Homo sapiens: one gene and its partner. The protein of the gene in region 2 interacts with the protein of the main gene of each other region in a biochemical or structural test. Each region holds a gene or a part of one and is shown on either strand. Other genes may lie near its edges.

What was found. The genes of interacting proteins can lie anywhere in the genome.
Region 1: the proteins of DAP3 (region 2) and PPARA form a complex in vitro, tested with the Homo sapiens proteins (one study listed by BioGRID).

Annotation. Positions count from the first base shown.
Region 1 is NC_000022.11:46,219,835-46,224,493, forward strand, and holds part of PPARA (peroxisome proliferator-activated receptor alpha), read left to right. Parts: coding exon 1-180; intron 181-4,659. UniProt on the Homo sapiens protein: Ligand-activated transcription factor. Key regulator of lipid metabolism. Activated by the endogenous ligand 1-palmitoyl-2-oleoyl-sn-glycerol-3-phosphocholine (16:0/18:1-GPC). Activated by oleylethanolamide, a naturally occurring lipid that regulates satiety.
Region 2 is NC_000001.11:155,723,551-155,727,090, forward strand, and holds part of DAP3 (small ribosomal subunit protein mS29), read left to right. Parts: intron 1-1,831; coding exon 1,832-1,940; intron 1,941-2,376; coding exon 2,377-2,469; intron 2,470-3,540. UniProt on the Homo sapiens protein: As a component of the mitochondrial small ribosomal subunit, it plays a role in the translation of mitochondrial mRNAs. Involved in mediating interferon-gamma-induced cell death. Displays GTPase activity in vitro.

The sequences.
Region 1 (4,659 bases), on a different chromosome or scaffold from region 2:
AGATCTGAGAAAGCAAAACTGAAAGCAGAAATTCTTACCTGTGAACATGACATAGAAGATTCTGAAACTGCAGATCTCAAATCTCTGGCCAAGAGAATCTACGAGGCCTACTTGAAGAACTTCAACATGAACAAGGTCAAAGCCCGGGTCATCCTCTCAGGAAAGGCCAGTAACAATCCAGTAGGTGTTTGCGGCTGTTCTGGGTTCTCTTGGCAACATGGAACCAGTGTCGTAGAGGACGATTAAGGACACATGTGTTGAATGTTGAGAAAATTATATTTATCCCACAGTTAAGCAAAGGACAGCGAAGATGGAAACAGTTCATTCTGAGACTCTGAGCTGTAGCTTAACAACAACTCCTTTCTTCTTGCTTGGAGCCACCTCAAAGCTCTTAGCAACTAAGTTATTATACTGGCTATGTAATTAATACACTTAAAAAAAACCTTAATAGCTTACCAAGTACTAAGATGATTTCTTAGGAGCATTTTTTCTTAAATAGAGATAGGTTCTTGCTCTGTTGCCCAGGCTGGAATGCAGTGGTGCAATCATAGTTCACTGCAGCCTTGAACTCCTGGGCTCAAGCAATCCTCCTGCCTCAGCCTCCCAAGGAGCTGGGACTACAGGTGTGCACCACCACACCTGGCTATGTTTGATGTTGTTGTTGTTTTGTTTTGTTTTTGTTTTTTGGTAGAGATGAGATGTTTCCCAGGCTGGTCTCAAACTCCTGGCCTCAAGTGATCTTCCCACCTCGGCCTCCCAAAGCACTGGCATTACAGGTGTGAGTCATGGCACCCAGCATTAACTGGATTTAAAAAAAAAAAAACTGACCAGGCAAGATGGGTCATGCCTGTAATCCTGGCACTCTGGGGAGGCCAAGGTGGGCAGATTGCTTGAGTCCAGGAGTTTGATACCAGCCTGGCCAACATGGAGAAACCCCAACTCTACTAAAGATACAAAAATTAGCTGAGCAGGGTGGCACACACCTGTAATTCCAGCTACTTGGGTGGCTTAGGCATGAGAATTGCTTCAACCCGGGAGGCAGAGGTTACAGCAAGCTGAGATCATGCCACTGCACTCCAGCCTGGGTGACAGATCGAGACCCTATCTCAAAAAAAAAATAGAATAATAAAATAAATCCCTACTTTGAGGTGTATTAGTCTGCTATAAAGAAATCCCTGAGACCTGGTAATTTATAAAGAAAAGAGGTTTAATTGGCTCGTGGCCCACAAGGCTGTACAGGAAGCTTCTGCTTCTGGGGAGGCCTCAGGGAATTTGACTCATAGCAGAAGGTGAAGTGGGAGTAGGCGTCTTGCATGGCAGGAGCAAAAACAAGAGACACACACTTTTCACCCATCAGATCTTGTGAGAACGCTATCACTAGAGTAGCACCAAGAGGATGGTGCTAAACCATTCATGAAGGATCACCCCCATGATCCAGTCCCTCCCGCCAGGCCTCACCTCCACCACTGGGGATTACAGTTCACCATGAGATTTGGGTGGGGACACAGAGCCAAACCATATCATAAGGCTAGAAAAGGAAACCACTTACTTCCCACTCAAAATGTGCTCTTGGTCCTTTCTCCTAAAACTACTCCCTCCCTCTCAGACAAACATGCCTACATTCTTTTTCCGCCTTCAGTGAAAAGACAGTGACATCTTGGGGCTTAGAAAGGGCCACTTGTAAGCCAGGCGTGGTGGCTCACGCCTGTCATCCCAGCACTTTGGGAGGCCAAGACAGGCGGATCACGAGGTCAGGAGATCAAGACCATCCTGGCTAACATGGTGAAACACCATCTCCACTAAAAATACAAAAAATTAGCCGGGCGTGGTGGCGGGCGCCTGTAGTCTCAGCTACTTGGGAAGCTGAGGCAGGAGAATGGCGTGAACCCAGGAGGCAGAGCTTGCAGTGAGCCGAGATCGTGCCACTGCACTTCCAGCCTGGGCGACAAAGCCAGCTGTGTCTGGGCGCGGTGGCTCATGTCTGTAATCCCAGCACTTTGGGAGGCTGAGGTGGGTGGATCACTTGAGGTCAGGAGTTTGAGACCACCCTGGCCAACATGGTGAAACCCCATCTCTATTAAAAATACAAAAAATTAGCTGGGCATGGTAGCGGTTGCCTGTAATCCCAGCTACTTGGGAGGCTGAGGCAGGAGAATTGCTTGAACCTGGGAGCTGGAGGTTGCAGTGAGCTGAGATCGCACCACTGCACTCCAGCTTGGGCAACAGAGTGAGACTCTGTCTCAAAAAAAAAAAGAAAGGAAAAGAAAGGACCACTTGTTATAGAAAGCCTGTCTTTTAAGGTAGCTCTGGACCTTTTCAGAGGCAGCCAAATTGCCCCTCATGGTTCGTCCCCCACATCCCCGCCTGCCTGGCCTAAGTCCTCCTTCCCCCTCCCCAACAGTTAAATAAGTCTTTGTCTCCATTACAAAACAAATCTCAGAGCTACCTTCAAAGAAGAGCCAGCCCTCAGTTGGTGAATGAAGATACTTTGACATTTTCCTATGAGCATGGTGAAACAGGTTTAATTTGTATTAAATAGCTTGAAGCAATCCTTATTGGGAATTACAAGGTGGAATTTTAGTCACAGGAAAATAAAGCATTTCACAAGCTACTTACTTTCATGAACAAACCAAACCTCTTCTTTACTGAGTCCTTTAATTCTTCAGTGAATTCTCCAATTAAATAGGCCGAGACATTTTAGAAGTTTCCAGCAGACACCCACACTAGGCAGCTCCAGAGGCTTGTCCCAATTAGAACTTTCCTGGATTACGAGAGTGAAAGAAAAGGTAACTTTTAGCTTCGAGTCTCTATCCTGGATATGATTAGTACAGCCCAAAATTGGGATGGCTAAAACTTTTGTTTGCCAGCTTATATTTCTCCCTTGGATTTCAGAATTGAAAGCAGGCTGGGCACAGTGGCTCACACTGTAATCCCAGCACTTTGGGAGGCTGAGGCGGGAGGATCACTTGAGGCAATCCAAGAGTTTGAGACCAGGCAACACAAGGAGACCTCGTCTCTACAAAAAATGATTTTTTAAAAAACTAGCTGGGCATGGTGGCATGTGCCTGTGGTCCCAGGTACTTGGGAAGCTGAGATGGGAGGATGGCTTGAGCCCAGGAGTTCAAAACCAACCTGGGCAACATGGCAAGACCACATCTCTACAAAAAATAAAAACATTATCCAGGCATGGTGGCACATGCCTATAGTCCCCGCGACTTGGGAGGTTGAGGAGGATGCCTTGAGGCCAGGAGTTCAAGGCTGCAGCGAGCCACGATCGCGCCACTGCACTCCAGCCTAGGCGACAAAGCGAGACTCTCTAAAAAAAATTCGAAGCAGAGTTAAGTTGTCTTTCTTCCTAACAACCTGCCCCCACCATGGGGTGCGAATGGGACTCCTGGAGTCCTCCTGCACCTCCCCTTGGAGACCACCAAGCTCTAGGAACCCCATCACCCTCAGCTGAGGGTCACATGCAGCAACTAGCAGGCGGGAATCTGTTTGCATTTTGGCCTTAAAGAAATAAATAATAGGCCAGGCGCGGTGGCTCATGCCTGTAATCCCAGCACTTTGGGAGGCTGAGGCAGGTGGATCACCTGAGGTCAGGAGTTGGAGACCAGCCTGACCAATATGGTGAAACCCCGTCTCTACTAAAAATACAAAAATTAGCTAGGCATGGTCGTGGGCACCTGTAATCCCAACTACCCAGGAGGCTGAGGCAGGAGAATTGCTTGAACCTGGAAGGCAGAGGTTGCAGTGAGCCGAGATCACACCACTGCACTCCAGCCTGGGTGACAGAGCGAGACTCCATCTCAAAAAAAAAAAAAAAAGAGGGCCAGGCGTGGTTGCTCATGCTTATGCCTGTAATCCCAGCACTGTGGGAGGCAGAGGAGGGCGGATTACCTGAGCTCAGGAGTTCGAGACCAGCCTGGGCAACATGGTAAAACCCCATCTCTACTAAAATACAAAAAATTAGCCGGGCATGGCAGTGTGCGCCTGTAGTCCCATCTATTCGGGAGGCTGAGGCAGGAGAATGGCGTGAACCTGGGAGGTGGAGGTTGCAGGGAGCCGAGATCACACCGGTGCACTCCAGCCTGGGTGACAGAGTGAGACTCCATCTCAAAAAAAAAAAAAAAGAAAGAAATGATAGATGAATAGTTTAGGATTGGGGTTCACAATTTGGTTTTCTGTAGAAAAAGAGAACCGGGCACTCTTCCGAGAGTCAGATGCCCTCTTCCACCCACACCCACAAAGCCAGAGCACCGCAGGTACCAGTTTTCAAGGCAACCTCCAACCATCATGTGACTCTTTGTGTTTGATCACACTGTTTGCTCCAAGCCAGGGTTGCGTCCCACCCCATGTCCTTGTCTGCGCACGGGACGCTGGAGGCACGGCCCCCTCCTCCCTGCCTAGCCTGCTGACGGGCTTTCCAGAGCTGGCTCCTTCAGGTGCAGGATACCCTCTCTGCTTAGTCTGGGAAAAGGCCCCGTTGGCAGGATGCCCACCACCAGGCCACACTGCCTGAATCTATTGGCAGAGCTCTGGTTTTGTGGCCAAGGTGGGTAGTGGAAGACCATAGCCTGTGTCCCTTACACATCTCAGAAAGCAACCCCATCTGTGGGCAAGAAATCTGTTAGGGAGACCAAGCAGCGGCCTGGAAACACC
Region 2 (3,540 bases):
ACTCCTAACCTCAGGTGATCCACCTGTCTTGGCCTCCCAAAGTGCTGGGATTACAGGGATGAGCCACCACGCCCAGCCAACATTTGTTTTAATACCTTTATCATGTTTTTTTGAACATTGAGCCTTCCATTAAGTTTGGAATTGCCTGTCAAATCCTACACCAATTCAATTGTTTTGTTAGGATTTCTTTTAAAAATATCAACACTGGCTGGGTACAATGGCTCACGCCTGTAATTCCAGCACTTTGGGAAGCTGAGGTGGGCAGATTACTTAAGGCCAGGAGTTCAAGATGAGCCTGGCCAACATGGTGAAACTCCATCTCTACTAAAAATACAAAAATTAGCTGGGCGTGGTGGCACACGCCTGTAGTCACAGCTACTTGTGAGGCTGAAGCAGGAGAATCGCTTGAACCCGGGAGGCGGAGGTTGCAGTGAGCTGAGATCGTGTCACTGCACTCCAGCCTGTGCGACAGAGCGAGACTCTGTCTCAAAAAAAAAAAAAAAAAATTAACACTATTTTAGTTATACTTACAAACAGTATTTGTTAGATATTCTTATTAGTAGACATATTTTAATATTTTCTTTGCAAATCAGTTTCACACACATTAGTACTTCCCAAATTTCCCACCAAAGTATTCTGGTAGCAAAAGGGGAATTAAACTCTGAAAGGTTAGTATGCTGGAGGTATGAGGTATGGATGGCCTTAGAGTTGTGAGGCAGCTGGTCACACCTGCTCCTGAGCCGCCATGTATTTAGTTCTAGAGAAAAAAGTCTAAATGGTTAAAGTAATAAAAATAAATTTTAGGCCAGGTGCGGTGGCTCACGCCTATAATCCCAGCACCTTGGGAGGCTGAGACGGGTGGATCATGAGGTCAGGAGTTCGAGACCAGCCTGACCAACATGGTGAAAGCCTGTCTCTACTAAAATTACAAAAATCAGCCTGGCATGGTGGTGGCACCTGTAATCCCAGCTACTGAGGAGACTGAGGCAGAAGAATTGCTTGAACCCCGGAGGCGGAGGTTGCAGTGAGCCGAGATCACACCACTGCACTCTAGCCTGGGTGACAGAGTGAGACTCTGTCTCAAAAAAAGAAAAAAAAAAAAAATCAACTAAAAATAAATTTTAGGCCAGGTGCAGTGGCTCACGCCTGTAATCCCTGCACTTTGGGAGGCCAAGACGGGGGTGTCACCTGAGGTCGGGAGTTTGAGACCAGCCTGACCAACATGGAGAAACTCCTTCTGTACTAAAAATACAAAATAGCCGGGCATGGTGGTGGGTGCCTGTAATCCCAGCTACTCGGGAGGCTGAGGCAGGAGAATCACTTGAACTGGGAGGCAGAGGTTGTGGTGAGCCGAGATCGTGCCATTGCACTCCAGCCTGGGCAACAAGAGTGAAACTCCGTCTCAAAAAAAAAAAAAGAAAAAAAATTTAAAGAGTTAATGTTTATTGAATTATTAACTTGTGTCAGAAATTTTAAGCATTTTTCTATATGCTTTCCATATTTACAGTGGCCCTAAGTGGTATACATAATTTTGTTATGAGATATATCAATTATTTATAGATTTCAGCTGAGATAGAATATATGCTTCAGTAATAGGAATAATCAAAAGCTGACTATCATGTTACTTAGTGCGGAATAATGTATTTCAGTTTTTAGCTAAGTTATATGGATAGATTTTCAAACTCAGTACCAACCCAGCTTCTCCTAACTGAGTAAATTAGAGGCATGCAATCTGATGGTCTTGGTTGCCACTTTAGGCAGAGTATATATACCACCCCCCACCCACTCCTTCCACACCCACCCACTCTTTCCTTCTTTCCTACTTTATCAGGTGAAGACATTCAGTGAAGCTTGCCTGATGGTAAGGAAACCAGCCCTAGAACTTCTGCATTACCTGAAAAACACCAGTTTTGCTTATCCAGCTATACGATATCTTCTGTGTATCCTTTCCTGCCTGCGTGGACCCTCATGAACCAATGCTTTCTCCCCTCAAATAAGGCAACAGAAGAAATGAAAAAAAGTACTGTTGAGGCCGGGCATGGTAGCTCACACCTATAATCCCAGGAGTTTGGGAAGCCGAGGCAGGCGTATCGCCTGAAGTCAGGAGTTCAAGACCTGCCTGGCCAACATGGCGAAACCCCGCATTTACTAAAAATGCAATATATTAGCCGGGTGTGGTAGCGTGCACCTGTAATCCCAGCTACTTGGGAAGCTGAGGCAGGAGAATCGCTTGAACCCGGGAAGCGGAGGTTGCTGTGAGCTGATATCAAGCCACTGCACTCCAACCCCATCTCAAAAAAACAAAACAAAGCATAACTACTGTTCACATACAAGTGATCCTTCCAGTCATGTTTTCTTTAACAACATATACTTTAGATGGAGAGAAGGGAACAGGAAAAACCCTAAGTCTTTGCCATGTTATTCATTTCTGTGCAAAACAGGACTGGCTGATACTACATATTCCAGATGGTAAGAACTTCCTGTTGTTTCTTCTGTCTGTTAGGTTTAGTTATCCTGTTACTGTGGTAGCCTTGCAGCTTTAATTTTCTTTTCTTTTCTTTTCTTTTTTTTTTTTTTTTTGAGATGGAGTTTCGCTCTTGTCGGCCAGTCTGGAGTGCAGAGGCGCAATCTCAGGTCACCGCAACCTCCGCCTCCCAGGCTCAAGAGATTCTCCTGCCTCAGCCTCCCAAGTAGCTGGGATTACAGGCGCCCACCACACCACCACGCCCAGCTAATTTTTTTTTTTTTTTTTTTTTGAGACGGAGTCTTGCTCTGTCGCCCAGGCTGGAGTGCAGTGGCACGATCTCAGCTCACTGCAAGCTCCGCCTCCCGGGTTCACACCATTCTTCTGCCTCAGCCTCCTGAGTAGCTGGGACTACAGGCGCCCGCCACCATGCCCGGCTAATTTTTTTTGTATTTTTAGTAGAGACAGGGTTTCACCATGTTGGCCAGGCTGGTCTCGAACTCCTGACTTCAGGTGATCCACCTGCCTTGGCCTCCCAAAGTGCTGGGATTACAGGCATGAGCCATTGCACCCGGCCTCAGCTTTACTTTCCTAACAGGGATCTGATAGCTAAAGGAAAAGCCTTTGCCAGTCACGATGGCTCAAACCTATAATCCCAGCACTTTGGGAGGCTGAGGCTGGAATATTGCTTAGAGCCCAGGAGGAGGCTGCAGTGAGCTGTGATCGCACCACTACACTCTAGCGTGGGCAACAAAGCAAGACCCTGTCTCAAAAAAAAAAAAAAAAAAGAAGAAGAAGAAAAGCCTTTACTCCAGATGTAGAGCAGACTGAGCTCATCCATCATGATTTCTTCGTGATATTACTGCCAAGCAGATTATAAGGTGAAGTCAATGTGACAAAAGGAAATTCGGCTAAAAGCTTCCTGAAGCCTTTTGATGCTAAGCAGTCCTTCTTTTGATATTTAATACCCATGGACATAAACTTCTGCCTTAGAGGTCGCCATGGAGTTTTGTTTTGTTTTGTTTTGTTTTGTTTTTGCCATCTGTTAACAGTCCTGAGTACCCATAGAGCCTTTT